4 separate regions of the Homo sapiens genome follow, and all the other regions are linked to region 4. Evidence: fine-mapped expression QTL. A gene starts in region 4. Each other region holds a variant in brackets. All regions are shown on one strand. Distances are from middle to middle.

Region 1 (8,103 bases), 63 kb before region 4:
GCTCCTTCAACTTAAACAACCTGAGCGAGGAGGACACCCGTCACCTCCACACACAGGTGCACGCCTCAGCCCCCGCCCTCAGAACATGCCGGCCCCGCCTTCCACACGCCATGCGGTGAAGACAGGTGAGGGCCTCTCCTCCACCTGCGTCCACTCCCTTGGGCGCCACCAACCCTGAGCTGGGCTCAGGTGATTCATGCATGAGGGAAGGGATGGTGGCAGCCCCAGGACACCGGCTGGGCGGGGTCCTTCCACGAAGAGGAGCAGGGCCAGGCCACATCTCCTTGCAGTAGAGCTGCAGGCTCAGACAGGAGCAAGGCCTTGCTCCTGGGAAAGAGCGGGGAGAAGCCCATGTGCCCCGGGGAGCGGGGGCAATGGAGCTCACCAGTGAAGAAGGGTGGCAGGGGGCGGGACGGAGGCGGACACTCAGGAGCAGCCCCAGGCCACCCCCACACGCCAAGGGGGTAGGCTTTTCCTCCATAGACGCCACCACCCCTCCCCGCACCTGCCCCGCCTGTCCCGCCTTGGGAGAGGATGGGGCGGACGTGGATGGGGTTGCAGCTGGAGGGTCAGGAGGCAAGCCCAGGCTCTGAGGGCACAGGACCTCGGGACCCCTCATTAGGAAGAGACACCGTCAGTGGGGCAGGCTCGTCTGGGACTTTCTCCAGTGTCCCTGGGAAACCAGTGGGACCCACACGAGGGTTTTTCTCCATAAGACGCTGAGCCAGAAAAGCACGCAGGGCCCCTGAAAGGCCCTTCCAACCCTCAGACCTGTGGCTCTGTGATCTGTGACTTGAGCATATGGGCTCCTGTCGCTGGTGCAATGCCACCTCAGGTGGGGTGCACATGAGTCATGGGCTGGGTTTCTCTGCCCAGAGGCACCTGGTGCAGTGAGGGGAAGGGCACAGGCAGCCTGCACACCCTCAGGGGTGGGGATGTTGACCCCATGGTGATTCTCCAGGGGGTGACATCTGTGACTCTGGCTTGTGAACCTTCTGGCTCATTCTGGGTCACTTCCCGGATCAATCCTGGGGCATTCCCGTCCTCCCTCTCTTTCTCCCTGTCTCCGGCTCTGCCCTGCCCATCACCTCAGCAGCTGGAGGGGGCGCAGGACCACGATGAAATAGAAGGGCTCCATGTTGAGGGCCAGCGCCAGCAGTCCCAGGAAGGCGAACACTGTCACGGAGAAGTCAAACCTGCAGTAGGGGAGAGGCCAAGGTCCACCCTGTGGCCCTGAGCCTACCTGCGCCTGCTCCCCTCCCTGGCCCTGTGCACAGCCACCCTCCCACAGAGCCCAGACACAGCAACACCAACAGGAACCAGCCGGCTGCGGGAAGAACTTCCTGCCACCCTGGGGTTTCAAGGTGGCCAGGCCCTGTCCCAGCATGCGTCTCACGGGTCAGGCCTCAGTGCTCTGACCCCAAGGCCAGAAATGCCCGGGAACCCCTACAAAGGGCCCCATGCTGGTCTAACGACAAGAAGGAAAGAAGCCCCGGCCTCTGCAGCCCTGGCCTCCGCAGCCCTGGAGACAGGCCTCGTCTTCCGCTCAACAGACATCTGGTTACACACTGCAGACCAGCCTGACCCCAAGGAACTTTTTGAGGGAAGAGAGCAGGCCCTTCCAGTGAGATTCCCATCGGGAGAACAGCTCGCCCTGCCCCAAGCCAGAGGACCCTCTCTCCTCTCCAGACACGCAGGGCACACACGTGCTGTCGGCTCCTCCCAACTCCGCTCTGCGTGTTAACCCGCTCACCCTCGCGGCCCAAGACCTCATGAGTGCAGCCTGACTTCACAGGCCGGTTAACTTGAACAGGGCAGGGAAGTGACCTCCAACGCTCTGGGGAATAGGGAGAAGGGCCACATGGGGTCTCATTACTGCTGATCAAGGAAGGGGGGGAGCATTCTTTTCTGTGGGCATTGTGGCTTTTATGGAAGAGAAAAAAGTTTAATGAGTCAGGAAGAGCCAATCAGTCTATGGCACCTCAAGAGGCCGTTTCCAGAAGGACGGTGTGGGTGGTCTGAGAGGCTTCAGACAAGGGCCTGACCCTGGGGAGTTCCTGGGCTGTGGGCAGGGCTGCTTGAGGGAGACATAGGCCTCAGCCCATCCTCAGACCCTCCCTCTGCGATTCCAGAAATGGCCCGGGATCAGGGTGTGCAGAGAAGGGTCTGGGGCCATCCTCAAGAGTCTCAGCTTTGGGTCAGAAACATGCTGTCCACTCACAAGTTCCATCCGGAAGACAAGTACTCCACAGGGCCCAGGCCGGCAACCTTCAGGAACAGCTCCACCCCATAGACTGTGGACAGAAGGAATCCATCGGCAGCAGCCCCGCCACATCCTCCCCCATGCTCGGTCTCCTCTTTGAGGCTCCTCCACAGTCTGCAGCCTCCCTGCTGGCCATAAGCCCTCCAGGCTGAGCCCAGGCCTCACTCATGTCCCAGCGTGAGAGCAGGTGCTCCAGGAGAGGGCCTAGATGGTGGCCAACTGGGTAATCTGCTTAAGAGAAACTGGCCAGGCATAGGGGTTCACACCTATCATCCCAGCACTTTGGGAAGCCAAGAGAGGAGGACCACTTGAGCCCAGGAGTTGGAGACCAGCCTGAGCAACATAGTGAGACCCCATCTTTACAAAAAATACAAAAATTAGCCAGGCATTGTGGCGCTGTGTGCCTGTAATCCCAGCTACTTGGGAGGCTGAGGCTACTCGGGATCCCTTGAGCCCAGGAGGTTGAGGTTGCAGTGAGCTATGATCACGCCACTGCACTCCAGCTTGGGTGACAGAGAAAGATCCTGCCCCAAAAAAAGAGAGAGAAATCCTCCCTGCCTGTCTCTGGGCAGGGCCCAGCTAACCATCTGTCCATCCAACAGGTGTGTCCTGACTACCCCTTCTACCTTGGGCCTTGCATTGGGTACCAGGTGTGCAAAAGTGACCAGTGCAGGGCAACCCTGGGGGCACAGAGCTTATCAGCTAGGTGGGAGGAAAGACGCCAACAGGGAATGACAACACAGTGTGCTCAGACTTGATGGAAAGAGCAGGAAAGTCAGGCAGAGGTTAGAGGAAGACACCACCAGGCAGAGGAAACCCCTGTGCACAGCCCAGAGGCAGGCAAGAGCAGCAGGGAGCAGAGGCTGCTGAGGAGAGCAACAGTGTGCAGCGGGGGACACGGCGCTGGCAAACAGCAGGGCTGCAGAGCCGAGTGGAGGGTCACACACGCCTAGGATCTGGGCTCCA[T/C]CCAGAGGGCAGCGGACAACCACGAAAGAGTTTTAAACGGGGACGAGATGGAATCAGACTGATTACTCCGTCTCTTTATAGCTTCCTGTTTTAGAGAAGAACCATGAGGTTCTACACTGAATGAAAGTTCTCCCAGACAATTTTAAAACAAGCAGTCCAGCAAAGCCATGTCGGAAACGTACTAGTTAGAAAGACGAGGTAACTCCAGGGCACGTGCTTGGAGAAGAAGTTCCCACCTGTAAGACAGAGAAGTAGCAGCTCACAGGTAAGCCAGGTGTGCCGGCCAGGACACGGCCAGTCCCTGAGCGGGGCTCACCTTTCAGCATAAATGTCTCCACGAGGATCCAGACCCCGTTGACTGCCACCACCAAGTCTGAAATACACAGGCCCGTAAAAGACAGAGAAATAACAGGGGGGCTTAGAAATCTGCAGGTCGCAGCTGAAGTCCCTGGTTAACTTCCTGGAGCTCTACGGGATGGGGAGAACAGGGCTGCTCCACACACCCATTTGATAGGGAACTTCTTTCTGCTCAGTGCTCTTACCAAGGGAGCTAAATCAACCAGTGTTTTCACCTAGAAACAGCTATAAATTTCTAAAAACACTCCCTCTGTCACTGTATGAATACCAGTTATGATGTAGAGATTATTCCAAATTGAGGTAAAAGAGGGACAATATACCAGGCATTCAAGTATTGAAAACACTTGTTTTCCCCTAGAGACTTCTAATTTTAAAATAATTGCATGAACTCTTTAGAAAAACTGCATATGCATTAAGCCATTCGCCTAGCAATCCCACTTTCCAGAAACCATCCCAATGACACACTAGCAAAAATATAAGATGTATCTGAAAGCTACTCACCGCAGCACTATTGTGATAGCAAAACACTGGCAACAATCTCAATGATCATCAGTAGGGGACTGGTTGAACAGACTACGATACATTCATAAACTGGCATACTTTAACCATAAAAAAGAAACACAGGCTAGGTACAGTGGCTCACACCTGTAATCCCAGCACTTTGAAAGGCTGGGGCAGGTGGATTGCGTGAGCCCAGGGGCTCGAAACCAGCCTGGGCACACAGGGAGACCAAATCCCTGCAAAAAATAAAAATAACTAGCCAGGTGTGGTAGTGTGCACCTGTGGGCCCAGCTACTCAGGAGGCTGAGGTGGGAGGATCGTTTGAACCCAGGAGGTCAAGGTTGCAGTGAGCTATGCTTGTGCCACTGCACTCCAGCTTGGGTGACAGAGCAAGACCCTCTCTCTAAGAGAGAAGAAAGAAAAGAAATGAGGTACATTTCTACATATTACTTTTTTTTTTTTAAGACAGGGTTTTATTATTACCCAGGCTGAAGTGCAGTGGGGCGTGATCTTGGCTCACTGCAACGTCCACCTCCTGGGCTCAAGCAATCCTCCCACCTTAGCTTCCTGAGTAGCTAGGAACACAGGTGCACACCACCACGCCAGCTAATTTTTGTATTTTTTGTAGAGATGGGGTTTTGCCACATTGCCCAGGCTGGTTTTGAACCCCTGGGCTCAAGCAATCCACCTGCCTCTGCCTTCCAAAGTGCCGGAATTACAGGTGTGAGCCACCACACCCAGCCTCATTTCTACATATTACGGTCTCCAGGGCATATTGTTAACTGCAAAAAGCCAGGTGGCAGAAAAAAGTGCATAAAATATGCTATTGTTTAAGACAGATATATTGATAGGTATCCAACTTACAGGTTTTAAACAATGGAAGGAGAAGCCATACATAAAAGTTGCCCACTGTGGGAAGTGACAGGGATATAAACTAAACTTCCTTCAATATACTTTTTTTGGTAGATCTGACTTGGAACCATGTAAGTATTTTACATAATTTTTTTTTGCTTTTTCTTGAGATGGAGTCTCACTGTATTACCCAGGTTGGAGTGCAGTGGCACCATCACAACTCACTGCAACCTCTGCCTCTCAGGATCAAGTGATCCTCCTGCCTCAGCCTCCCAAGTAGCTGGGACCACAGGCGTGCATGGCTAATTTTTTCTATTTTTGGTAGAGATGGGGTTTCACCACATTGCTCAGGCTGGTCTCGAACTCCTGACCTCAAGTGATCTGCCCGCCTCGGCCTCCCAAAGTGTTGGGATTACAGGCATAAGCCACCATGCCCAGGCCTAATTTACATAATTATGAAACAAAATTTGGGTTTTTTTTTCTTGAGATAGGGGGGTCTCACTCTGTTGCCCAGGCTGGAGTGCAGTGGCGCGATCATGGCACACTGCAGCCTCAACCTCCCCAGGCTCAGGTGATCCTCCCACCTCAGCCTCCCAAGTAGCTGGGACTACAGGTGTGAGCCACCATACCCAGTTAATTTTTGTATTTTTTTTTTTGTAGAGACAGGGGTCTCACTATGTTGCCCAGGCTGGTCTCAAACTCTTGGGCTCAAGTGATCCACCCGCCTCGGCCTCCTGAAGTGCTGGGATTTTAGGTCTGAGCCACCATGCCCGGCCATAAAACAAAATTAAATGCCAAAAGCAATCCCCCAAAATAAAAAATAACATGGCATAAAGAAATCCAAATGTGTAGGCCGGATGCGGTGGCTCATGCCTGTAATCCTAGCACTTTGGGAGGCCGAGGCAGGTGGATCAACTGAGGTCAGAAGTTCGAGACCAGCCTGGCCAACGTGGGGAAATCCCGTCTCTATTAAAAATACAAAAAAATTAGCCAGGCGTGGTGGTGGGTGCCTGTAGTCCCAGCTACTTGGGAGGCTGAGGCAGGAGAATGGTGTGAACCCGGGAGGCGGAGCTTGCAGTGAGCCGAGATCACGCCACTGCACTCCAGCCTGGGTGACAGAGTGAAATTCTGTCTCAAAAAAAAAAAAAAAAAAAAATTAGCCGGGTGTGGTGGTGGGCACCTGTAATCCCAGCTACTTGGGAGGCTGAGGGAGGAGAATTGCTTGAACCTGGGAGGCAGAGGTTGCAGTGAGCCAAGATCATGCCACTGCACCACAGCCTGGGTGACAGAGATAGAGTGAGACTCTGTCTCAAAAAAAAAAAAAAAAAAAAGAAATCCAAATGTGTATCCAGTTGGTGACATGTCCACATGGAGAGGAACTATCCCACATGACCTTAAAACACAAGGCCAAGCACACTGGCTCACACCCGTACTCCCAGCACTTCGGGAGGCCAAGGCAGGAGAATGGCTTGAGGCCAGGAGCTTGAGACCAGCCTGGGCAACATGAGGCTACCCCGTCTCTACAAAAAATTAAAAAATTAGCCAGGTGTGGTGGCATGCACCTGTGGTCCCAGCTACTCAGAAGACTGAGGTGGGAGGATGGATTGAGCCTGGGAGGTCAAGGCTGCAGTGAACCATGACTATGCCACTAGGGCACCAGACCTAAGTCTTTGTCTCAAAACAAACAAACAAAAAAACCCACAGTAATCTGAATGTACATCATTGGAATGATGTTTCTAGTAATTATATCATTGGGATTGCTTTGCAATTGTTATCCTGGGACTGTGAGACAAAGCAAATGAATAACTGTGCCAGTGTAGTTGGGAACCTGGATATTTATTTTTTTTTCTTTGTTGGTGTCTGATTGTCTTCAAAGACAACCTGGATTTTAAGATTGAGAATCTAGGCCAGGCACGTGGCTCACGCCTGTAATCCCAGCACTTTGGGAGGCTGAGGCAGGTGGACCACCTGAGGTCAGGAGTTCGAGACCATCCTGGTCAACATGGTGAAACTCCATCTCTACTAAAAATACAAAAACAGCTGGGCGTGGTGGCACACACCTGTAATCCCAGCTACTCAGGTGAGTGAGACAGGAGAATCACTTAGAACCTGGGAGGCAGAGGTTGCAGTGAGCACAGATTACGCTAGCCTGGGCGACAGAATGAGACTCTGTCTCAAAAAAAAAAGGATTGAGAATCTAGACGTGTAAGATTGATGAAATCAGTCTTACACATCTAGATTCTTAATCTTAAAATTGCTGTAGGCCTGAATGTGAAGTATTAGCATGAACGCACAACAGTTTATCTTTAAAAAAAACAAAACCCTAGTTCTGTCCATGGAAAGGCCTAGAAACAATGACCAACCCAAGCAATGAGCACCCAGCACCTCGAATTGTGTCTCTAACACCATTTCCTACTAAAAGGAACCAGAGCTCCTTGGAAAGACCAAATTGGATCAAGCCTCTAGGTTAGTACTGTCCAAGGGAATTTTCTGTGACAATACAAATTTTCTTATCTGCACAATCCAATTGGTAGTCATTAGCCATTTGTGGCTATTAATCACTTGAAATGTGACAGCTAAGCTGAATTTTTCATTTTAATTAGCTTAAATGTAAATTGCCACATGTGGCCAGTGGCTTCCACACTGCACAGCATGGCTCTAGACAGAACTACCAAATTCCAGGAAAAGGCAACAGAGGAACATACAAAACCCAAATCCTGCTTCCTCACCTAAATGAGGTGAGGAAGAGAAGCCTATAGATTAAAACAAACTCAAGAGACATATCGACCAGTCAACTCTGTGGTTCTGGAATTTGCTTCCAAAAAATCTAGGTCTAGAGAGGATGATGAGCCGGAGTGAAGATACAGATGGGTGATGGGCACGGGGATGCGTGTGGTAATGTTCTCTTCACTTTTATACATGCTGGGAATTCCCCACAATAAAAAGTCAAACACAGGACTCTAGGACCAATCTCTTGCCTCTCCCGCTTCTAGAACAGCAAAGGACTCAGGGGGAAAGTGGCCTAGAGTGGAGATATTTCACACTTACACATGAAATACTGGAAGGCCTTGGACTTCACAAGGATATTAATACCTATTTGAAGAAAAGACAAGTTAAAATGTAAATTTACGCACTTGTTCCCCCTACTGTATCCTTAATTATTA
Region 2 (8,103 bases), 95 kb after region 4:
AGGCCGAGGGACAGCTCTCAGCCCCTGGAGGCCTGATGGGGGTGGGTGGGCTGGTGGGTGGCTGAGGCCTTGGTTCCTATGGAGACGGCAGGATTCAGGATGCTCCTATTCTGGTCCAGATGGGCTCAGAGCTGGGGGTGGGGAGCCTGCCTGGGGGAGGGGTCAGCTGTAGCTCCCCCCTCCACTGACTCCCCTCCACTGTCCTCCCAGTGCTCATGCTGGCCCCTTGATACATTCCCTGACACCACCCCAAACCCACAGATTGATTTTCTGTGTGACCCCAGGCTGCTGTCTCTCCCTCTCTGGGCTGTAAGAAGCCTTTCAGCTCAGGAGCTGGGGAATGTTCAGAAGACCTTTGGCTGGGAAAAGGTCAGGTTGGGGGAAGAGGGTATTTGGGAGGAAGCACTGGGGGTCCATCTGAGGTTGGTGCCGCTGGGCTGGAGGAAGAAGGCGGGGTGTGTGTGTGTGTGTGCGCGCACGCGCGCATATGTGCACTCTTTCTTAGGGCACAGTGTGGTGAAAGGAGGGAGGAAGGGAGCAACAGGTATGAGAACCAAACTTTGCATCCACAAATGTGGGTGTGTCTTTACCGGGCAAGTAGAATCTGTTCTCTGCTGGGTAAAGGGAAGTACCCCTGCAGGGATGTCAGGGCAGAGATGCTGTGTGTGTGCACCTGTTTCTGGGCTTATCTTGGTCCCCATCCTTCCTGTGCCTTCCTCCTGCTCACTGTGTGCTTCAAAGCCCCGAGTGCTCTGTCCCCTGCTCACCTCCTGTCTCCTGGCCCCTCTCCCTCCCCCATTCCCACCAGGCACCTTCCTATTCCTTCAGCTCACGAAACTCATTCCTGCTACAGGGCCTTTGCCCATGCTGTTCCAGCCTTCTGGAATACTTGTCCTTGTCCTCATTGTCTCTCCCCACTTTGCCTGACTAGCTCCTACAGGAAGCCTTCCCTAATCCCCTCCGACCCTACCCCCACGACCCAACCAGGGGCGATTGAGCTAACCCCAATCCCAGGACTTCTCCCACCATGTCCTAATTGCTGGGAGAGAGCGCCTGCTTGTGGAAGGGGGGTCTGTGGGGTAAGCAGCCCTGACACCTGTTCCTCTGATCCCTGGAGCCCAGCACAGGCTGGGCCCATAGTCCAAGTGAATGTTTATGGAGTAAACGAATGAACAAATGAATGAATGGAATTGTGTGTGTGTGTGTGTGTGTGTGTGTGTGTCAGTGACTGTGTGTTTGTATGACTGTGTGTGTGTCTCTATGTGTACCTGCCTTGTATCATTGTAAGTGTGTGAGAGTGTGTCTCTGGATCTCTGAGTGTGTCTCTGTGTTCCCGACATATGTCTATTTTCATATGTTTTCATATGTGTCTGTTTTCTATGTGTCTATCTGCATGTGTCTGGTGTCTGGATTTCCAAACACAAAGGTACATGTTTTTAGGACTTTCTGAGGGTGCATATGTGTATCTGCTTATGTGTAAATGTGTCTCTGTCTCTGGCCTCCTTGGTGTATCTGTGAGCAACTCTGTCTCAGTGTGAATCCGTGTGTGTGTATCTGCACATATGTTTCTGTTGGTTGCTATGCATGTCTGTTGGTCTCTGTGTATCTGGGACCTTAGATGTGTATTGGGGCCCTGTATGTGGGTGTGTAGGATCATGTGTGTGTTTTGTGTATGTGCCTCTGTGTGTGTGTGTGTGTGTGTGTTGAGATCTCTGGTGTATGTCTGATACTCTGGGTATGTGAGTGTTGGGGTCTGTGTGTGTTTCTATGCCTGGATTCATACATGCTCCAGTGTCCCTGGGTGAGTACATATCTAGGATCTTGGAGTGGCTGTCCTTGGGTGTGTGTGTGTGTCTGGGCCTCTAACTGGGTTCATGTGGGGGGTCTCTGAGTGTGTGTGTGTCTGGATTCCCGTGTGTGTGTGTGTGTGTGTGTGTGTGTGTGTGTGTCTGGGTCTCCAGGTGTCTGCCTCCTGTGTGGCCCGAGGACCCCAGCCCCCTGCACCTCCTTTTGCAGGACAGCTACTGTCTGGAGGAGCCTGGGCCCCTTCTGGGGGGAGGAGTACACGGTGCACCTGCCTCTGGATTTCCACCAGCTGGCCTTCTACGTGCTGGATGAGGACACTGTCGGGTTTGTGGTTGGGGAAAGTGGAATGTGTGGGTTAGGGACCCAAGCCTGGGCACCTGAGGGGAGAGGGGATGTGGGTCCACAGCCCACGAGGGTGTGCCCTCCCACCCAGACCTTGACACCTGCCCCCACTTCTCTTGGGGCGGGGCAAAGGGGCCCCTGACTCAGACCTTCACGTGCCCGCCTTCCTGCAGGCACGACGACATCATCGGCAAGATCTCGCTGAGCAGGGAGGCGATTACAGCCGACCCCCGAGGTGGGCGAGGGACATGGGCAGAGGGAGGAGGGGGCCATGCCCAGGGTGGGCATTTGCAGGGGCATAGCACATGGCACGGTGAAGCACAGAGCCTTCAGTGGAAACTTATTTCTCTTGTTGCTTTTGTCTTTACTTTTTGTTTGCTTTTAATTGTTGTTGTTAGAGATGAGGTCTTGCTCTGTCACCCAGGCTGGAGTGCGGTGGTGCTATCATAGCTCACTGCAATCTTGAACCTCTGGGCTCAAGCGATCCTCCCATCTCAGCTTCTGGAGTAGCTGGGATTACAGGTGCACACCACCACACCCAGCTAATTTTTTCAGAAATATCTTATAGATACGGAGTCTTGCTATGTTGCCCAAGCTGGTCTCAAACTCCTGGGCTCAAGCAATCCTCCCACCTTGGCCTCCCAAAGTGTTGGGAGTACAAGTGTGAGCCACTATGCCCAGCCTTGTCTTTAGTTTTTGAGCAGTTAATTTGTTTGCCTAGTTCAACATTCAGATTTTATGATAAGCACCCCAGCTACTCTGTTCCCTTCCTGGCATTGTCAGCTTCTTGTATGTCCTTCTAGAAATATTTTAAACATATATAAGCAAGTAACAGTAGTAATAGCAGGCTGGGCATTGTGCCTCACACCTGTAATCCCAGCACCTTGGGAGGCAGAGGCAGAGGCAGAGGCAGGAGGATCGCTTGAG[C/G]CCAGGAGTCCGTGAGCAGCCTGGACAACATAGGGAGACCCCATTGCTACTAAAAATAATTTAAAAATAATAACAGCAGCAAACATTTATATACTGTATATATAAATATAAACATATAACATATTTATATATAATAAATATAAACATATAACATATTTATATATAATAATTATATATAAATATTATTCTGAACACTAATTCTTTATATTTATGGACTCAGTGATGTAGGTTCATCATAACCCTGAGAGGCAGGTGCTCTAATTATTAATGCCCACTTTATAGGTGAATAAACTGAGGCACAGAAAGTTAAATGACTTGCTCAAGATCACATTATTAAGTGAGGCAGCCAGGATTTGAACCAAAGTTGTCTAGTTCCAGAGTCTATGCCTTTTGTGTGTGTGTGTGTGTGTGTGTGTGTGTGTGTGTGTGTGAGAGAGAGAGACAGTGTCTCATTCTGTCACCCAGGCTGTCGTGAAGTGGTGCAGTCTTGGCTCACTGCAGTCTCAACCTCCCTGGCTCAAGTGATTCTCCCACCTCAACCTCCCAAGTAGCTGGGACTACAGGCGTGCACCACCACACCTGGCTAATTTTTGTATTTCTTGTAGAGGAAGGGTTTCACCATGTGAAATCACGCTGGTCTTGAACTCTTGGCCTCAAGTGATCCACCTGCCTTGGCCTCCCAAAGTGCTGGGATAACGGGTGTGAGCCACTGCACCAAGCCGAGTCTGCGCTCTTAATACTGTGTTTTTCTGTGCTTATACAAATTGCAGCCTTTTACACTCTGCTCTGTATCTTGCCTTTAAAATTTTTTTAATTAATTAATTTATTTATTTTTGAGACGGAGTCTTGCTCTGTCGCCCAGGCTGGAGTGCAATGGCACAATCTCAACTCACTGCAACCTTTGCCTCCCGGGCTCAAGCAATTCTCCTGCCTTGGCCTCCTGAGTAACTGGGATTACAGGGGTCTGCCACCACACCCGGCTAAGTTTTGTATTTTTAGTAGAGATGGGGTTTCACCATGTTGGCCGGGCTGGTCTCGAACTCTTGACTTCGAGTGATCCATCTGCCTTAGCCTCCCAAAGTGCTGGGATTACAGGCATAAGCCACTGCACCCGGCCTGTACCTTGCCTTTTCACTTCACTAAGTATCTCTGAGATCTTCCTATAACAGTGGTCTCAGAGTTTCCGCATTCTTCGTTTGGGATGGCATCGTGGTGCTTCATTGTGTGGCTTTACCATTGTTTATTTGGCTAGTTCCCTACTGATGGCATCTAGGGAGGTCATAGTCTTTCCCTGGTTCAAGCAATGCTACAATAACTAGCCTGTACAAATAAAATTTCACACATATGTAAGTTATATCCATCGGTCAGATAAATTACTAGAGGTGAATTAAAGAGTGCACACATTTGCATACTTGATAGTTGTTGCTAAATTACCCTCCATGGAAGAGGTAGCAGTTCACTCACCCCACACTCTCTCAGTTATCAAACTTTTTGTGATCAATTAGTTGTAAACACCACCGCACTCAGACCAGCCAGTTATCAAACTTTTTGATCGTGTATCTGATAGGTGAAATATTGCCTCAGCATAGGTTTATTTTGCACTTCTCCATGAGCCTTTTTTATATACAGTTTTGAAGAATCACTTTATTTTCTCTTCCATTTATTGTCTACTCATATTATACATGAATTTCCCCCCACTAGGTTGTTTGCCTTTTCTTATTGATTTGTAGGAGCTCTTTACATATTTGGGCAGTTACTTCTTTGTCAAATTAGCTGCAATATTTTTTCTCCATTTGTCTCTTACGTTTTGACTTTGCCTGTAATTTTTTCATGTATAAAATTTCTTTTTCTATATTTAATCTCATATTTTTCTTTTGGTTCTGAATTTTCTGTTAGACCTAAAAAGAACTTCTCAACTCTAAGATTAAGAGAAACATTTTAAAACATAATTCCTTCTAACATTAATGTATTACATACACAAACACACACACATATATGTATATGTATTTTTTTTTTTTTTTTAAGAGACAAGTTCTCACTATGTTGTCCAGGCTGATCTTGAACTCCTGGCCTCAAGCAATCCTCCTGCCTTGGCCCCACAAGGTGCCGGGATTACAGGTGTGAGCCACCATGCCTGGCCATTTATTGCATTAAACAAAAAACACATTTAAGTCTTTGATCTATTTGGAATTTGCCTAGATACAAGGTATGTAGTAAGGATTAAACTTTATTACTTTTTGTCTACATGACTGTTAATTGTCTCAATACCATTTATTGAATAATGCATTATTTCCCTCAGTGGGAATTAGTTGAAAACCTACTATGTGCTGATCATCATTATAATCCTATTTCATGAGGGCCTACTATATGCCAGGCATGGTGCTAAGCGCTTTACTTCTCAACACACCAGTGAAGTGTCCACCAGAATGATCTCCAATATACAGAGGCATAGAGAGGGGAGGTGACTTCCCCCTTCTAGAAGGTTCAGAAATCAGAGTCCAACCCAAGTTTTGTCGGCCTCCAAAATCTGTGCTCTTAATCTGCCCACTGAGCTGTACCCAGTGTACCTCAAACATCCTCCCAGGGCAGTGAAATTAAATGAGTGAAGTTTGAGGCCTGGCTTGCAGGAACTTGTGGACTTGGATAGGAAAACAGAACACATTCCCACAGAACAGGCAGCAAGAAAAGAAGGAACGTGTCCATGTGTCTGCAAGCATGTGGCGGAAATGTGGAGGCTGCAGTGGAGATAGAGAGATGTGAGATGAGACTTCTACTTTCAGCAGCTGGCGGGACTCAATCCTCAAAAGCACTCTCCTGCTATACAACAGTGAGATCCTGGATTAAATAGGGTTCCTAATACATTGTTGGACTTGTGGTAACTTTTTTTTTTTTTTTTTTTTTTGAGACAGAGTCTCGCTCTATCACCCAGGCTGGAGTGTAGTGGCATGATCTCAGATCACTGCAACCTCCGCCTTCCAGTTTCAAGCGATTCTCATGCCTCAGCCTCTGGAGTAGCTGGGATTGCAGGCATGCACCACCATGCCTAACTTTTTTTGTATTTTCATAGAGACAGGGTTTTGCCATGTTGGCCAGGCTGGTCTCAAACTCCTGACCTCAGGTGATCAGCTCACCTTGGCTTCCCAAACTTTTGGGATTACAGGTGTGAACCACCATGCCAGGCCAAACTTCTTTATAGAACGGGAAATCCCTCAGTATTTTTTCCATCTCAAGTCATGAGACTGGGTGGAATAGCTCACGTGTGTAATCCCAGAACTTTGGGAGGCCGAGGCTGGCGGATCAGTTGAGGTCAGGAGTTCGAGACCAGCCTGGCCAACATGGTGAAAACCCACTCTACTGAAAATACAAAAATTAGATGGGCATGGTGGCAGGTGCCTGTAATCCTTGCTATTCGAGAGACTGAGACATGAGAATTGCTTGAACCTGGGAGGTGGAGTTTGCAGTGAGCCAAGATTGCACCATTGCACTCCAGCCTGGGTGACAGAGTGAGACTCCATCTCAAACAAAAACAAAAACCATTAGCTAAAACCTAACAGTGAATGGTAAACAAAAAGCAAGGAGACCATGAAGGATTTCCCTGAAAGCAGACGTCAGTATCAATTCTACACTCAACAAAGAGACTAAAACTTGGACAAGGGGCAGGGTGGATGTTACTCAACATGAGAATTCTCCATTAGGCTGAGACCCTCAAGGGGTCCCAGAATAACCAACTCCTGCTCCTCTCTAGGGATAAGCATGTTCACTTAGGTTTCCCAGAGTAAGATCAAACAAACATGACTTCACAATCAAAGATCAGCAAACACACAAGGAAATGAGACACCATGGGCAATAGTCAGCAGAAACAATAATCATCTGATTTAGACCCACAAAGACTTTAGATTCTGTAATTATAATATACGGGATTTTTAAAAAGAATCAGATTTAAAGAAATAAAAGATGTAATCACAAGAAAGGTCTGCAATAACAGCAATAAATTACAAGTAATTACGCAGACAGATTTTAGAAAAGCACCAAATAAAACTTTTAGAGGTAAGTATAATTGTCAAAATAAAAAATGGAGTGGTTGAGTGAAACATCAGATTATTCATAGTTAAAGGGAGATTTAGTGAACTGGAAGAAAGGTCTAGAGAAATTATTCAGAATTAGTTTCAGAGGAAAAGGAGAAAAAATAAAATAGAAATTCAGAGACATGGAAAATAACTGTGGAGGTTTAACATTTATTTAATTGGAGTTCCAGAAGGATAGAATTTTAAAAATTAGAGACAGGCAAAAATTATAACAAAAATTGGGAAGAGGAAATAATTTTAAAAAATCAATCATCTAGAATTTTGCAGAAATAAAGGAAGGATATGATTCCATAAATAGAAGCAGTGCAATCTCTACTCAGCAGGATTTTAAAAAATCTGTATCTAGACACATTGTGATGAAACTGCAGTGCATCAGAGACATAGTCCTTAGAATTATAATAGATAGAAAAGCCTGGGCATAGTGGCTCCTGCCTGTAATCCCAGAACTTTGGGAGGCCAAGGCAGGCAGATGGCTTGAGTTCAGGAGTTCGAGACCAGCCTGGGCAACATGGCAAAACCTCGTCTCTACAAAAAACACAAAAAATTAGCTAGCTGTGGTGGTATACATCTGTAGTCCAAGTTACTGGGGAGGCTGAGGCAGGAGGATCGCTTAAGCCTGGGAGGCTGAGGCTGCAGTGAGCTGAGATTGTGCCACGGCACTCCAGCCTGGTGATGGAAAGCTAGAATTCAGTGGAACAATATCTTCAAAGTGTTGAGAGAAATACAGAGGGGAGAAATGTCCAAGATTTTTTTGAGGGGAGAGTATGTTGGGATTACATGATGAAGTTCTTTCTATACCAGGGGGAAGTGTGTGATGGCACATGGCTACGAGCATTGGCCCTAGAACTAACTATACTGCCTGCATTCAAATTCCAGCTCTGCCATTTGCTAGCTGTGAGACCATGGACAAAACTCTTTCTCCTTGTGCCTCATTTTCCTCATC
Region 3 (8,103 bases), 96 kb before region 4:
TATAATTGATCTGAGAAATGTCTGTAAGGATGTGCTTCAAACTAATTATGGTGGGACCACTGGAGAGGGGGATTTACGGAGGGCAGGGATAAGAAAGCGGAATTTAGAAATCTTATGTATTGGTTTTTTTAAAAAACAAATATGTATTCATGAATTACTTATGTCAATTTCAAGCAGACGTTTATTTTTAAAATTAAAAGTGCATCCATAGTTGGCACCCAGAGGGTATGGTGGCCTTGGAGACCAGGCTGAAGGGACATTATGTTTAGCTGCTTAGATGGGCCTAGTCTAGTTCTCAGGGAAGTCTCTGCCGCTGATGTCCCCCTCCCTGTCTTCCTGCAGTGCCGCAAGGTGTGTGGCCTGAATGTCTCTGACCGCTGTGACTTCATCCGGACCAACCCTGACTGCCACAGTGATGGGGGGTACCTGGACTACCTGGAAGGCATCTTCTGCCACTTCCCTCCCAGCCTCCTCCCTCTGGCTGTCACTCTCTACGTGAGGCCCTGCCCTGGGGGGCTGGTGAGAGGGGCTGGTGTCTCCAGCTGGACTTGACTCTCCCTTCCTCGCCCGCTCCCCACCCAGGTTTCCTGGCTGCTCTACCTGTTTCTGATTCTGGGAGTCACCGCAGCCAAGTTGTGAGTTTGGCTCTGGGCTCCGGTCTGGCTTATCAATGGGAGGAGGGGTCCCAGGAGGCTGACATTCGGTCACCCTCAGTTTGGGGGAAGGATAGGGGTCCGGGGCCGGTTACTACGGAAATGCTTCCCGTCCGCTTTTTCTCCGTAGTTTCTGCCCCAACTTGTCGGCCATTTCTACCACACTGAAGCTCTCCCACAACGTGGCAGTATCCTTTTGTCCAGTGTCCTGCACCCTGGAGGGAGGGCAGTTGTGGGGAGGCTGGGAGATAGGGTCATGTCTATCCCCGTGTGGGGAAGCTGGGGGATAGGGTCGAAGGCCTGGGTGGGCTGCAGCTGCGATCCTGGCCCGCCTTGACATGCTCCCCACATGGCGTCACCTTCCTGGCATTTGGGAATGGTGCACCTGACATCTTCAGTGCCCTGGTGGCCTTCTCTGACCCGCACACAGCCGGCCTGGCCCTTGGGGCACTGTTTGGTGAGAGCAGCCCCAGTGAGGGGGGCGGGGAAAGCAGCAGGAGAGGGTGCAGGGTGGCTGAGCTCTGGCCTCCTCCCCCCAGGCGCTGGCGTGCTGGTTACCACAGTGGTGGCCGGAGGCATTACCATCCTACACCCCTTCATGGCTGCCTCCAGGCCCTTCTTCAGGGACATCGTTTTCTACATGGTGGCTGTGTTCCTGACCTTCCTCATGCTCTTCCGTGGCAGGGTCACCCTGGCATGGGCTCTGGGTGAGCAGCTCTGGGGCTCAGGCGTGAGATCCCAGGGCTGATGGGCAGGAGGTTTAGGAGGTGCCTGGGACAGAGAGGTGTGAGGGGTGGTCAGTGGGGGCTTTGATTTGATTACAAGTGACAGAAACCCTCCTCAAGCTGGCTTGAGCAAAAATGGGAACATGTGGGTCACATAACCAAAGAGGCCTGGCAGAGCTGGGGGCTGGGGAGGGAGTATTCAAAAGTGTCACAATTTTTTGGCCAAGCGTGATGGCTCACACCTATCATCCCAGCAATTTGAGAGGCTGAGGCAGGAGGATCACTTTGGTTCAGGAGTTTGAGACCAGCCTGGGCAACATAGCGAGACTACATCTCTACAAAAAAGAAAAAACTTAGCTGGGCATGGTGGTGGTGCATTCCTGTGGCCCCAGCTACTCTGGAAGCTACGGCAGGAGGATCCCTTGAGCCTAGGAGTTCGAGACTGCAGTGACCCATGATTGTGCCATGGCACTCCAGCCTGGGCAACAGAGCAAGACTCTGTCTCAAAAAAAAGAAAGTTTCATAATTTCCAATTTTAACAAGCAGTAAAGATGGGACGCTAACTGGGGCCACCCGGATCGTGACAGCAAACATGTTCCATTCAGACGGCTCAAGGGGTATGAATGGAGGGACAATTTGTACAGAAGGAAAATGAAACCAGCAAGGGAAACCGAGATTCGAGATACTCAGGGGCCAGCAACAATGGGAGCTGCGAACGCACTCATCCCTCGTGGCAGCAGGGGCAGGGAAGGGGGTGGTGGAGCCCAGTGAGAGTTGGAGGGCTGGAGGCCTGGAGCTATACTGAAGAGGGTTGCAAGCCCTGCCAGAGACACGCAACAGGGAGGGAGTAGGAAGAAAGACTCCAGAGTCTCTCCCGCTGCTTCTGATTTCCTGTCTGGCCTCCCATTGGCTGAACCTAGCTGTAGCCAGAGCTACAGGGCTGCCTCCTCCCAGGGCACAGAGCAGGACACCGACCCTTAGTACTTGAATGGGGACCTGGAGGTCTCTCGCTGTGCTTGGGTATTACCTCCTTGATTGCAAGGGAGACAGGAAGGGAGATGGTCCTGGAAGGCAGGAGGAAGGAGTGGGGAGCTCAAGGAAAAGGCCATTTACCCACTGGTACCTGGATGGGCTAACACAGATTGCCACCGCTAACACGCACCACTGATAGAACTGCCAGCTGTTGTTCTCTAGACCTGCACCAGGACACCACTTGGTGACGGCGTGCACCCCGTCTGCAGGTTACCTGGGCTTGTATGTGTTCTATGTGGTCACTGTGATTCTCTGCACCTGGATCTACCAACGGCAACGGAGAGGATCTCTGTTCTGCCCCATGCCAGTTACTCCAGGTAAGAGTCTGCATCGGACCCCAGAGAGGACCAGTGGGGACTGGGGGCCTCTGTGCCCTTCAGTGCTGCCCAGGGTCTCCTGAGGCCATTGTCCCCACCAAGCTCATCTCCTCTTCATGCTCTTTCTACTCATTCTGCTGAGGTCCCGCCTCCGTGCTTCCACTGGTACCCATGAGCCTCTGCATCACCTGCAGGCTCAAGTGCACTCCTTCCTTCTCTCTATGCAGTTGCCAGGGCCATCTCTCTAAGAATCGCCACTGCTCCCTGCCCTGATGTTTCCCACCATTCTCAGGGTAAAACACAAACGCTGCCGTGACAGGGACACTGAGAAATAAAAAATAAATACAAAGAAATCAATAATATTCAAATACAGTCATATACACAAATACATGCACACAACACACATACACAAATACACAACTCACACATATACAAATACATGCACACATACACATACATGCACACACACAACTCACACATGTACATGCACACAAATACATGCACACATACAACACATACACATACGTGTATACACACAACACACATACAAATATATGCACACACACAAATACATGCACACATATACAACACACACAACACACATAGGAGTACATGCACACACATGCAACATATATACAGATGCATGCATGCGCACATACACAAATACATGCTCACACACATGCAACACAAATACATGCACACACAACACAAATACACAACACACACACAAATGTGTACATACAACACATATATGAATACATGCACATACATGTGCAACACATACATGCATACACATCTGCAACACAAAACATGCATGCACACATATACAACATACACAGATACACAACACACTTATACAAACATGCGCACACATACAACAGACACAAATATATGCACACATGCAACACATACAGATGCATGCACATGCATACAAATATGTGCACACACATGCAACACACATAAATACATGCTCACACAACACACAAATGTGTATAGACACAGGATACACCTGCAACAGAGATACATGCACACACATGCAACATACACATACATGCATGCCATACACAACACAAAAACATCAATGCACACAAACATGCAGCATACACATACACAAATTCATGCACTCACATACACAATACACACAAATACATGCACACACACAAATACACTCACATACACAACACACATACAAATACATGCACACACACATAAACAAATACATGCACATAC[A/T]TAGATAACACACACAACACACTCAGCAGCAGAATCAGGGCGAGAGCTAACTCCTCACTCGAGGAGGGCCATTTTCCTTTCAGGCCCCTCCATACAGGTCCCAGGCCTCTCAGCATCCACAGGCCTCCTGAGAAGAGAAAAATAGTATGGGTTCCAGATTCTGAAAAGGACAACACTGAAGTCAATAAATGTTTGAGTTGTGCCTTCAGATGCCCCTATTAACTTTAGCATTATAGCTGCATGCTTACATTTGGCCATGTTTGGTGAATTAGACTTTCACTGTGTAAGAATCCCTGAGCACGCATGCAGACTGCTAGAAATCCAAAATAAAGACAGCCTGGACGTGGCCGGGCGCAGTGGCTCATGCCTGTAATGCCATCACTTTGGGAAGCTGAGGCGGGTGGACTGCTGAGGCCAGGAGTTTGAGACCAGCCAGGCCAACATAGCAAGACCCCATCTCTAAAATTTTTAAAAATTAGCTGGGCATAGTCTCAGCTACTCGGGAGGGAGGGAGGTTGAGGTGGGAGGATTGAGTGAGCCCAGGAGGTCTAGGCTGCAGTGAGCTGTGATCACACCTCTGCACTCCAGCCTGGGTGACAGAGAAAGATCCTGTCCCAAATAACTAAGTAAATAAGATGGCCTGAACACTTGCACCCCTAAACCTGCTCTGTCCCAGTGTGCCCCCTCGAAAATGGTCTGGGTTCTGTATGTAACTGGGCCTCTCTCCTGCAGAGATCCTCTCAGACTCCGAGGAGGACCGGGTATCTTCTAATACCAACAGCTATGACTACGGTGAGTCCGTGCCCTGTGCCCAGCCAGGGTGGCGGTAACAGGGAAAGGCTGGGGGTGGAAAGATGGGGCCCTCCAAGACCTGGGCTCCAGGAATGAGGCTCCAAATCGGCCCCACCTCTCACTGCAGCTCAGGTGAGCCAAGGGCCAGGGTTGTCTGCCCTCTGCCGAGTACTGGGCTTTGTCTCCTCCTTTAGGGCTGGGAGGACTGGTGGGATGGAGCGGGGAAGGTTTCCTGGAGAGCAAGTCAGCCGCAGGCACACCTCACCACCCGACCCCTGCACACAGGTGATGAGTACCGGCCGCTGTTCTTCTACCAGGAGACCACGGCTCAGATCCTGGTCCGGGCCCTCAATCCCCTGGATTACATGAAGTGGAGAAGGAAATCAGCATACTGGAAAGCCCTCAAGGTGTTCAAGGTAGGAGGGTCCTGGAGCCAGGCTCACAGCCTTCTGACAGCAGCAAGACAGTGGCCACGCTACCCTCTCCAGCTCTACGAGGGGGAGGGCCTGGGGTCCACTGAGACCCTCTCAGAATACATGACTTGTGATTTGATGGGGAAACTGAGGCGTGGAGCTTGGCTGATGGCTTGACCTGGGGCTCTGCCCTCTAGTGGCCCCTAAAGACATCCATATCCTAACCCCTGGAACCTGGGAGTATGTTACCTTTATGGTAGAAGGGCCTTTGCAGATGTGATTAAAGATCTTTTTTTTTTTTTTGAGACAGAGTTTCGCTCTATTGCCCAGGCTGGAGTGTGCAGTGGCGCGGTCTCGGCTCACTGCAAGCTCCACCTCCCGGGTTCACGCCATTCTCCTGCCTCAGCCTCCTGAGTAGCTGGGACTATAGGCGCCCGCCACCACGCCTGGCTAATTTTTTGTATTTTTAGTAGAGACGGGGTTTCACCGTGTTAGCCAGGATGGTCTCAATCTCCTGACCTCGTGATCCGCCCGCCTCGGCCTCCTAAAGTGCTGGGATTACAGGCGTGAGCCACCGCATCCAGCCATCATTAAAGATCTGAGATGAGCCTGGCTTATCCAGTGGGCCCAGTGTCATCACAGGGGTTGGCACAAGGAAAGAGGGAGGCAGGAGGGTCAGAGTCAGAGACTGAGAAGTGGCGACAGGAGCACAGGGTGGAATGATGTGGGGCCTGGAAGGCAGGTGGCTCCTGGAAGCTGGAAGGACCCTCAGTCTCCCCTAGAGCTTCCAGAAGGAACAACCCTGCTGACAACTTGACTTCAGGACTTCTGCCCTCCAGAACTGTCCAAGAATACATCTGTGCTATTGACAGTCACTGTTTGTGGTCATTTGTCCCAGTAGCCAGAGGCAACCAGGCACTTAGCCTGGAACCCGCACACAGTCAGTGCTTCAGCAATGAACGGCCGAGCTCTTGAGTCACTGAAGTCCATCTGTGGCCGGCTGGGATTCAGACTTCCCTGCCGACACCCTCCCACTTTTGCCCCCTTGACAGCTGCCTGTGGAGTTCCTGCTGCTCCTCACAGTCCCCGTCGTGGACCCGGACAAGGATGACCAGAACTGGAAACGGCCCCTCAACTGTCTGCATCTGGTTATCAGCCCCCTGGTTGTGGTCCTGACCCTGCAGTCGGGGACCTGTGAGTATCCCCTACCCCGGGCCAACCCACCTTCCTACTCCTTCCCACGTTCTGGAGTTTTCTTCCACCCAGGCTGGAGTACAGTGGCACGATCTCAGCTCACTGCAACCTCCCTCCACCTCTCGGGTTCAAGCAATCATCCCATCTAAGCCCCCTGGGCAGCTGGGATTACAGGCGTGCACTACCACGCCCAGCTAATTTTTGTATTTTTCACAGAGACGGGGTTTCACCATGTTGGCCAGGCTGGTCTTAAATTCCTGACCTCAAGTGATCCGCCCATCTTGGCCTTCCAAAGTGCTGGGATTACAGGCGTGAGCCACCGTGCACAGCCAGTGGAGTTTTCTTCTCAACCACGTGAGGGAGGTTTGGGCTAGAGGCAGAAACCTGGATATACAGCAGGCGCTTACTATGCGCTTGTGCCATAAGGGACACCAGCCTGGAAGTTCACCCAGGGGACCTCCTGCAGTCAGTTGATCCAATCTTGCTGGCCCCAGATGGAGGCTGCAAAACAGGTGACCCCAGGGCCAAATCCAGCCCTCTAGCTTGTTTGCCTGCATTTAAAAATTGGGGGATTTTATCTTAAAATCTGGATTTTGGCTTCTCAAGATCTGGGCCACATTCCTGAAGGCAAAACTGGCTGGAGCAGAGAAGGGGCACCCCCTATGGGGTGCCTGTGGCCTAAATCATCACAGTCCCCTCCATTGCCTGTTGGGTGCCCCTTCCCTCGTTTATGTGACCTGGCTGGTCCCCACTGGCATTTGAATTTTCCCCATCTGCCCCAGAATGTCCTTTTCTTTCTTGTCCTGCTCTGGCTGAGGAAACGCCCAGGCTTGTCCAACGTCTTCTAACTTCTGCTACCCAGATTTCTTCCTGTTGTCTAACTTTAGTATCTCATGCTGTCTGTTTCCTATCATCTAGGCTCCTCCCCCTCAGCCCAGGGGCTTCGCCTGGAGGTGGGGGTAGGACTCTGGTGCAGATGCATGGCTGGGCATGGTGTTGTGTGCTGTAACAGTGTCGGGATGAAACTCCATCGGGATGAAACAGCCTCCTTGCCACATTCCCTGTGAATTTCTCCCCCGGTTTGTGGGAGGATGCAGACATGGAGGGAAGGAGATAGGAGGAGAGATGATTGATAGAGAGTGACTCAGAGCTGAAAAGGGCCACCCACTAGGGCCGTCTGGTTCATCACAGCCCTCCATTCTCCATCCATTCTCTACGGAGCGGGGAAGCCTTGCCTTTCAGGCCAGGGCAAATCCAGGGACTTGCTTTCACAAGCGTTGTGGCATCTTTATTTATTTATTTATTTATTTTTATTTTATTTTATTTTGAGACGTAGTCTGACTGTCACCCAGACCCGAGTACAGTGGCATGATCTCAGCTCACTGCAACCTCTGCCTCCAGGGCTCAAGTGATTCTCCTGCCTCAGCCTCCCGAGTAGCTGGGATTACAGGCACCTGCCACCATGCTTGGCTAATTTTTGTATTTGTTGTGGCTTCTTAAAAGAGTGATTCCCACACATCAGTCATTCACAGACCATCTTCTCAATTTTGCTCTTACTCTATACTATTACATTTGATATTTTTCTTTGTTTTTCTTGAGACAGACTCTCACTCTGTCACCCACGCTGGAGTGCAGTGGCACGATCTCGGCTCACTGCAACCTCCACCTCTAGGGTAAGCAATTCTCCTGCCTCAGCCTTCTGAGTAGTTGGGACTACAGGCACCCGCCACCATGCCCGGCCAATTTT
Region 4 (8,103 bases):
AGCAGTTCAAGACCAGCCTGGGCAATGTAGCAAGACTCCATCTCTACAAAATAAAAAATTTTAAATTAGCTGGGTATGATGGCATATGCCTGTAGGCCTAGCTGCTTGGGAGGCTGAGGTGACGGAAACACTTGATCCCAGGAGTTGGAGGTTATAGTGAGCTATGATCACACCACTGCAGTCCAGCCTGGACAACAGAGTGAGACCCTGTCTCTAAAAAATAAAGTAAAATAAAAGGCTGGGCACGGTGGCTTACAACTGTAATCCCAGCACTTTGGGAGGCAGAGACGGGTGGATCACTTGAGCTCAGGAGTTCAAGACCAGCCTGGCCAAAATGAAGAAACCCCGCCTCTATTAAAGATACAAAAATTAGCTGGGTGTGGTGGCTTGCGCCTGTAATCCCAGCTACTCTGTAGGCTGAGGCAGGAGAATCACTTGAACCCAGGAGGCAGAGGTTGCAGTGAGCCGAGATGGTGCACTGCACTGCAGCCTGGGCGACAGAGCCAGATTCCACCTCAAATAAATAAATAAATTAATTTAATTAAATTAAATGACAAAAAAATACAACCATTAAAATAATAGTTAATATGCGGCCAGGCGCGGTGGCTCATGCCTGTAATCCCAGCACTTTGGGAGGCCGAGGCGGGCGGATCACGAGGTCAGGAGATCAAGACCATCCTGGCTAACATGGTGAAACCCCGTCTCTACTAAAAATACAAAAAATTAGCCGGGCGTGGTGGCAGACGCCTGTAGTCCCAGCTGCTCAGGAGGTTGAGGCAGGAGAAAGGCGTGAACCCGGGAGGCGGAGCTTGCAGTGAGCCGAGATTGCACCACTGCACTCCAGCCTGGGCGACAGAGCGAGACTCGTCTCAAAATAGTAATAATAATAATAGTTAATACTCAATGAGTGCGTACTATGTATGAGGGACCCTACTAGCACTTCATAAGTAAAAGTTAACTGAAAATTCTTAATAGCCCCATGAGATAGGCAGGCTTATTATCCCCCCATTACAGGATGGGTGTGGTGGGTATTTCAGGCACAGACAGATTACGTATCCTGCCCAAGGACCCACAGCTAAATAAAAGCCAAGCTTTCAGCTCTACGGTGTGACTCCAAACCTGTATTCCCAGCCATTACACTATAATTCCTCAAAGTCTGGGCCATGTATTTAGGCAGCACCTAGCTTCAATCATCAATATATACTTGCTCATATATACAGATTTAAAATACATCTTTCACTTCAGCTTTACCATGCAGCCTCTCAGAACAGTTAGAAACATACTTCCAAAATGTATGATTTTTATATCATTTTTATATAGGAGTTGTTCTCTTAGATTTAGGTGTCCGAGGAAGGGGAAAAGAGTATTTTTTTTTAACTGGTGAGTATTTTTTAATACAGTAAAAGTGCTCATCCTTAACTCCCAATTTAAAACACTCAGAGCAGCCGGGAGTGGTGGCTCATGCCTGTAATCCCAACATTTTGAGAGGCCGAGGCAGGTGGATCGCTTGAGGTCAGGAGTTTGAGACCAGCCTGGCCAACATGGCGAAACCTGGTCTCTACTAAAAATACAAAAATTAGCCAGGTGTGGTGGTGCATGCCTGTAATCCCAGCTACTGGGGAGCCTGAAGCAGGAGAATCACTTGAACCCAGGAGGCAGAGGTTGCAGTGAACTGAGATCACGCCACTACACTCCAGCCTGGGCGACAGAGCGAGACTCCATCTCAAAAAATAAATAAACTAAAAATTTAAAAATAACTAAATAAGTAAAACACTCCGAGCTAGCCTGTTACAGCTCCTATTTATGCACATTCCCGTTTCCGCTGAGAAGAACCAAAAAAAAAAAAAAAAAGACTCAGCAGATCTGACTGCAGACCTTTGAACTTGCAAACAGCAGCAGGTTCCTTCCTCAAGCTGTGGGCTCTGGGCTCAACCCACTTTGCCTCCCAACTGACCTAGTCAATGGCAGCTGAGCAACTGACTTCTTCCTCGAATCATTGGAACAACTCCAAGCAAATCCTTGTGCATCCACAGGGAACAGTACAACGTTTTGAAACAAGGCAGCGAAAGTAAACATCATTCTACTTGCTGCTAAGCCCGTAGCTCTCTGCCCAGCACACTTCCTGTGAGTTTTTTTTTCTTAAGTTTCCTCCAGATCTGGGGATTTATTTTGCTTTTAAATCTCAGCAGTGGAAAGGCAGAAGAGGAAATCCCAGATGAGACACTACTATTTGGCAGTCTTAAGAATTATGGTTGTATTGTCGTTTTGGTTTAACTTTTTACCACAGATATTTTCAAACATTCTCAAAAGTGCAGAGAATATATACGTGAACTTCCTTGTATCCATTACTCAGCTTTGACAATTATCTCCCATGTTTACTTTGAAGGCAGGAGAATTTATTAACTCACAGAGAAGAGGTTTCTTAATGTTACCATTATCATAATGGCTAGTGGTTTCTATGTTTTAACTCACGGCTGTCCAACCTTTTGGCTTCCCTGGGCCACGCTGGAAGAACTATCTTGGGCCACACATAAAATACACTACCATTAATGATGAGCTAAAAAAAAAGAGGCAGGGGGGTTGTTCATGCATAATTTTCATGATATCTGCCACCATAGATTAAAGTCCTCGCATTCAAATGCTTCAACACGGTTGTTTAACTGTTTAATATATGACTGCTTGCCTGCCTGTACTGCCTTTGCCCACTGGCTTTCAACTGGGGTGATTTTTGCCCCCATGGGGACATCGGCAATGTCTGGAGACATCTTGACTGTCACAACTTGGGAGTGGGGGGATTGCTGGTGGGTGGAGTCCAGGTATGCCACTGAACTTGCTTCAATGCACAGGTGAGACCTCCCGAAACAGAATTATGTGGCTCAAAATGTCAACTGAGCTGCTGTTGAAAAATCCTATCTTAGCTAATATCCCCACTTTAGGAATGAGGAAATTGAAGCTTGGAGTGGTTAACTTGCCTTTTATAAGTTTCAACCCAGGCAGTCTGAATCAGGGACCCTGCCTGCTTAACCATTACCCTATATACACCTACGACTAGAACCAGTCCCCTGATTTGAATTCAAACACGTCATTTTTCCAGACAGACAAAAATGAGGCCCAGAGAGGGGAAGAGACTTGCCCAAGGTCACACAGTGGAGGAGTAGGGCTAGAACCCGGGACTCCTGCGTCCTGGTCCAGTGTTCCCTCCGCGGGCTTTGCTTCTGCCTCTACAGAGGACCCAACTGGCCAGCGCTGGGGAAAGGGCCTAGGGGAAGAGGTTCAGCTACCATCCCGCTGTCCGCTGGGGCAGCCTGACCCAGGCACAAGACTCCTGTGGGGTCACCTAAGGGCGCCAGGGAGAAGAGCGAGGGAGGGAGGAAGAAGGAGGCAGGACAGCTGGCTCCAGCTCCACGTGCTCCCAGCCCCTGGCTGGGAGCCCACGTGAGGGTCGCCCTAAGAAGTCGGGGGCGAGGAGAGAGGGTGCAAAGCCCCGGCCCGGGCTGGACGGAGAGAAGCGCGGTGGAGACTTCCCTGCGCCCCCTCTGGGCCCGTACGGCCCACCTCCCACACCAGAGTGCTGCGCCGCAACCCCTTACTCCGCGTCCTCTGACCCCTGATCCCTGCCCTCTCCCTCGGGCCAAGCCGTCGCATCCCTCGGATTCTTACACGCGCCGCCCCAGCAACCCGGACCGCGCGCCGGGGTCCGCACCGCGCAGCCTAGCCCGCCGGCGCCGCCGCCAAAACCCCGAGCCCGAAGCTGTTGCAGCCGCCGCAGCCGCCGAAGCCGCCGCCACTTCAGCCACTGCCACCAGGGCAGCTGCGCCAGCTCTCCTATCCACCGCCTACCGTCCTCTCAACCCCGCTGGCCCCGCCCCATTTCCCCTTCACAGCGTCCTACTGGCTAACTGGGCTACCGTGATGAACTCTGATTGGCCAACTATCACGTCCTTCCGCAGGTCTCGCCCGCCGCCGATGCGGTACTCCCTGCCCGCCTCCTTAAGAAGGGGCGGGACGAAGAATCCACGCCCCTTACTCCTCCCTTGTTCCCCGCCTTACTCGTTGAGTCCAACCCAGAGGGAGTCCCAAGTCTTTCCATTGGTGAAAGGTCAAAATGGCGGTGCTTCTGATTGGTCAGACTTCAGGAGGTGGGGACAACTGAGCGGAACAATAAATTGAATGGTGAAAAGAAAGGTCAGTCAGACACCGAGTCTCGCCTTCTGAGATTGGCGGGTAACCTAGCAACGCAGGGACCGCGGCGGTAACTGTGGCTAGGGAAACCTGGAGCGGTCAGAGCAGGTGAGTAGCCAGTTGGGAAAGGGTCGCGGATCGGGGGAGATGTGGAATAGGGTTCAGCCCTCTGTCCTTTGGCTCCCTGAGGAATTAGAAGCCCCCGCTGCGATCTCGTCTCAGCTTCAGGACCCTGTCCCTCAGCTCCTGCCTTAGTCTGGACCTTTCGCTCCACAACCTGCAGGGAGCCGGCCTCCATTCTGCCCTTCTACCTGCCCACTTCATGGCTCCACTCCCTCATCCCTAAAACGAGGAGGACAACAGTCAAGCAGAGTCATATCGTAGTTAACTTATTTCAAGTCAAACATGGGAGCTGTGGGTGGGAGGGGAGTTTATAAGTCCCCTCCCATTTCACCCAACGGCCATACGTTCCTCGGTGAGCAGGCAATCTCACTTCAGTGTTTAAATTAGGTAGTTTTGTTTGTTTGTTTTGTTGTTGTTGTTGTTGTTTTTGCCGAGCATGGTGGCTCACGCCTGTAATCCCAGCACTTTGGGAGGCCGAGGCGGGCAGATCACTTGAGGTCAGGAGTTCTAGGCCAGCCTAGCCAGTATGGTGAAACCCCATCTCTACTGAAAATACAAAAATTAGCTGAGCATGGAGGCGCACCTGTAATCCCAACTACTCGGGAGGCTAAGGCACGAGAATCACTTGAACCCGGGAGACTTAGGTTGCAGTAAGCCAAGATAGCGCCATTGCACTCCAGCCCGGGCAACAGAGCAAGACTCTGTCTCAAATAAATAAATAAATTAGGTAATTTTTATTACACCACTTTTGCCTTTATCCTAACTTTGGAATTTAACTCCCATCTCCATCCTTAAGATGTGATCTCATTGTACCTACTGAAGACAGAGAGTTTCTTGTGATGATTAAATGAGGCTAAGGGCCGGGCGCGGTGGCTCAGCCTGTAATCCCAGCACTTTGGGAGGCCGAGGCCAGCAGATCACCTGGGCCAGCAGATCACCTGAGGCCAGGAGTTTGCGACTAGCCTGGCCAACATGGTGAAACCCTGTCTCTACTAAAAATACAAAAATTAGCCGGGCCTGGTGGCGTGTGCCTGTGATCCCAGCTACTCAGGAGGCTGAGCGGGAGAATTTCTTGAACCCGGGTGGTGGAGGTTGCAGCGAGCCGAGATCGTGCCACTGCACTCCAGTCTGGGTGATAGAGCGAGACTCCAGCTCAAAAAATAAATAAATAAATAAATAAATAAATAAGGCTGAGGTGGGAGAATTGCTTGATCGCAAGAGGCGGAGGTTGCGGTGAGCCATGATTGCACTACTGCACTCCAGCCTGGGCGACAGAGCGAAAAACCCTGTCTCAAAAAAATATATAAAAAAAAAACTTTGAGGTTCAAAAGATATTTTCATAAGAAAATGAAAAGATCAGCCACAGACACAGACATGGAGGAAATATTTGCAAATCATGTGTCATAAAAGAGTTGTATATAGAATATAAAAATAACTCTTATAACTCAATAAGAGGACAACTCAATTTTTTTAATGGGCAAAAGAGTTGAGTAGACATTTAAAAATCAAAAAGACAATACCAAGTATCATCATGTAGATAAATAAACAAACTGTAGCTTTCATATGTTGCCGGTAGGTACAGCAGAATACCAATTGGTACCACCAATCTGAAATATAGTTGGCAGTTTCTTAAAAAGTTAAACATAGGCCAGGCACAGTGGCTCGTGCCTGTAATCCCAGCACTGTAGGAGGCACAGGCAGGTGGATCACCTGAGGTCAGGAGTTCGAGACCAGCCTGGCCAACATAGCAAAACCCCGTCTCTACTAAAAATACAAAAATTAGCAGGGCATGCTGGCGGGTCCCTGTAATCCCAGCCATTTGGGAGGCTGAGGCAGGAGAATCACCTGAACCCAGGAGGCGGAGGTTGCAGTGAGCCGAGATCGTGCCACTGCACTCCAGTCTATGTGACAGAGTGAGACCCTGTCTCAAAAATAAATAAATAAAACAAAAAATAAACTTACACATAACCTAGCAATTCCACTCTTAGGAAGTTACCCCTCCCAAGTGAAAACATAAGTCCACACAAAGACTTAAATATAAATGTTCTTAGCAACATCACCCTTAACAGCCCAAAACTGGAAACAACCCAAATGTCATCAACAGGTGAATAAATAAATAACTCATGATATTTCCTTAGAATGGAATACTATTCAGCAATAAAATACTATTCAGGAATGAAATACTAATAATTGCTACAACCTGGATGAACCTCAAAAACATGTTAAGTTGAGGGTTTTTGGCCCAGTGGCTCACGCCTGTAATCCCAGCAATTTGGGAGGCCAAGGCAGGAGGATCCTAGTTTGAGCCTAGGAGTTTGAGCCTAGGAGCCTGGTAACAAAGTGAGACCCTATCTCTACAAAAAATACAAAAATTAGCCAGGCATGGTGGTATGCACCTGTAGTCCCAACTATTCAGAAGGCTGAGGTGGGAGGATCACCTGAGCCTGGGGAGGTCAAGGCTACAGTAATCCATGGTTGCACTGCTGCACTCTAGCCTGCGTGACAGAGTAAGACCCTGTCTATTAAAAAAAAAAGGCAGCCGGGCACGGTGGCTCACGCCTGTAAATCCCAGCACTTTGGGAGGCCAAGGCAGGCAGATCACCTGAGGTAGGGAATTTGAGACCAGCCTGACCAACATGGAGAAACCCCGTCTCTACTAAAAATACAAAAAAAAAAAATTAGCTGCGCGTGGTGGCGCATGCCTGTAATCCCAGCTACTTGGGAGGCTGAGGCAGGAGAATCGCTTGAACCCAGGAGGCAGAGGTTGCAGTGAGCCGAGATCACGCCATGGCACTCCAGCCTGGGAAACGAGAGCAAAACTCCATCTCAAAAAAAAAAAAAAAAGGTCAGGGTTTTTCAACCTCAGCTCTATTGATGTTTTGGGTGAGAAAATTCTTTGTTGTGGGGAACTATCCTGCCAATTGTAGGATATTTAGCAATATTACGAGCCTCTACCTACAAGATGCCAGTAGTAGCCTCTCTCAGTTGTGACAAGCAAATGCATCTCCCGATTATTGCCAAATGTCTTCTGGAGGGCAAAGTTGCCCCAGGTTGAAAACCACTGTGCTAAGCAAAAAGTCAGATGCAAACAATTACATACTGCATGATCCCATTTATATGAACTATCCAGGAAAGTTACATATGAGTGGAGGCCAGGGGCAGTGGCTCACGCTTGCAATTCCAGCACTTTGGGAGGCCAAGGAAGGTGGATTACTTGAGCCCGGGAGTTCAAGACCAGCCTGGGCAACATGCTGAAACCCTGTCTCTCCTAAAAACGTAAAAATTAGCCAAGCGTGGTAACACGCACCTGTAATCCCAGCTACTTGGGAGGCTGAGGCACGAGAATTGCTTGAACCAGGGGGGTGGAGGTTGCAGTGAGCCGAGATTACGCCACTGCACTCCAGCCTGGGCGACAGAGCGAGACTCAGTTTCAAAAACAAAACAACCACAACAAAAAATGTGAGTGGAAGCAGAGATTGTTTGCAGATTAGCTCATGGGAATTTGGGGGGAGTGATAGAAATGTTCTAAAACTGGATTGTAGTGATGTGGCAACTTCAGATACATTTACAAAAATAGTCACTGAGTTTTACACTTACAATGGGTGAATTTTATGGTAATGTAAATTATACCTCAATAGAGCTGTAAAAAAAAAAAAATTACACGTGTGATTAGTACTATGCAGGAAAGGTGAGAGAGTTTCCACAGGTTGTAAAGTGCTGTCTGTTCCAGTCTGAGGAGGGGTAGCCATTGAGCTAAGACCTAAAGAATGAGAAATTGTTAATCTAGGGAGAAATTAT

What was found. PIP is the estimated chance that this variant, and not a neighbour inherited with it, causes the effect.
Region 1: its variant is fine-mapped to the expression of TPCN1 in whole blood (TOPMed, PIP 0.97).
Region 2: its variant is fine-mapped to the expression of TPCN1 in whole blood (TOPMed, PIP above 0.99).
Region 3: its variant is fine-mapped to the expression of TPCN1 in whole blood (TOPMed, PIP above 0.99).

Annotation. Positions count from the first base shown.
Region 1 is chr12:113,280,080-113,288,182 of GRCh38, reverse strand. It overlaps TPCN1 (two pore segment channel 1), which reads right to left. Exons shown (of 28, transcript NM_017901.6): 15 at 7,988-8,032; 16 at 3,546-3,602; 17 at 3,412-3,465; 18 at 2,222-2,294; 19 at 1,089-1,196; 20 at 1-20. Among named protein-coding and RNA genes, the nearest start is that of MIR6762, 7.4 kb to the left of the region's middle. RefSeq lists enhancers at 296-463, 7,321-7,490. The variant T/C (reference allele first, on the strand shown) is at 3,230.
Region 2 is chr12:113,122,092-113,130,194 of GRCh38, reverse strand. RASAL1 (RAS protein activator like 1) reads left to right here. Exons shown (of 21, transcript NM_001301202.2): 3 at 2,017-2,130; 4 at 2,322-2,383. Among named protein-coding and RNA genes, the nearest start is that of RASAL1, 9.6 kb to the left of the region's middle. The variant C/G (reference allele first, on the strand shown) is at 3,076.
Region 3 is chr12:113,313,588-113,321,690 of GRCh38, reverse strand. It overlaps SLC8B1 (solute carrier family 8 member B1), which reads left to right. Exons shown (of 16, transcript NM_001358345.2): 3 at 343-495; 4 at 583-635; 5 at 784-841; 6 at 1,005-1,110; 7 at 1,193-1,360; 8 at 2,620-2,727; 9 at 4,690-4,749; 10 at 5,035-5,165; 11 at 6,215-6,356. Among named protein-coding and RNA genes, the nearest start is that of SLC8B1, 17 kb to the left of the region's middle. The variant A/T (reference allele first, on the strand shown) is at 3,958.
Region 4 is chr12:113,217,184-113,225,286 of GRCh38, reverse strand. TPCN1 (two pore segment channel 1) reads right to left here and starts at 3,823. Exons shown (of 28, transcript NM_017901.6): 1 at 3,661-3,823. It overlaps DRC10 (dynein regulatory complex subunit 10), which reads left to right and starts at 4,193. Exons shown (of 5, transcript NM_001330452.2): 1 at 4,193-4,290. RefSeq lists enhancers at 945-1,114, 4,445-4,594 and a silencer at 1,829-2,123.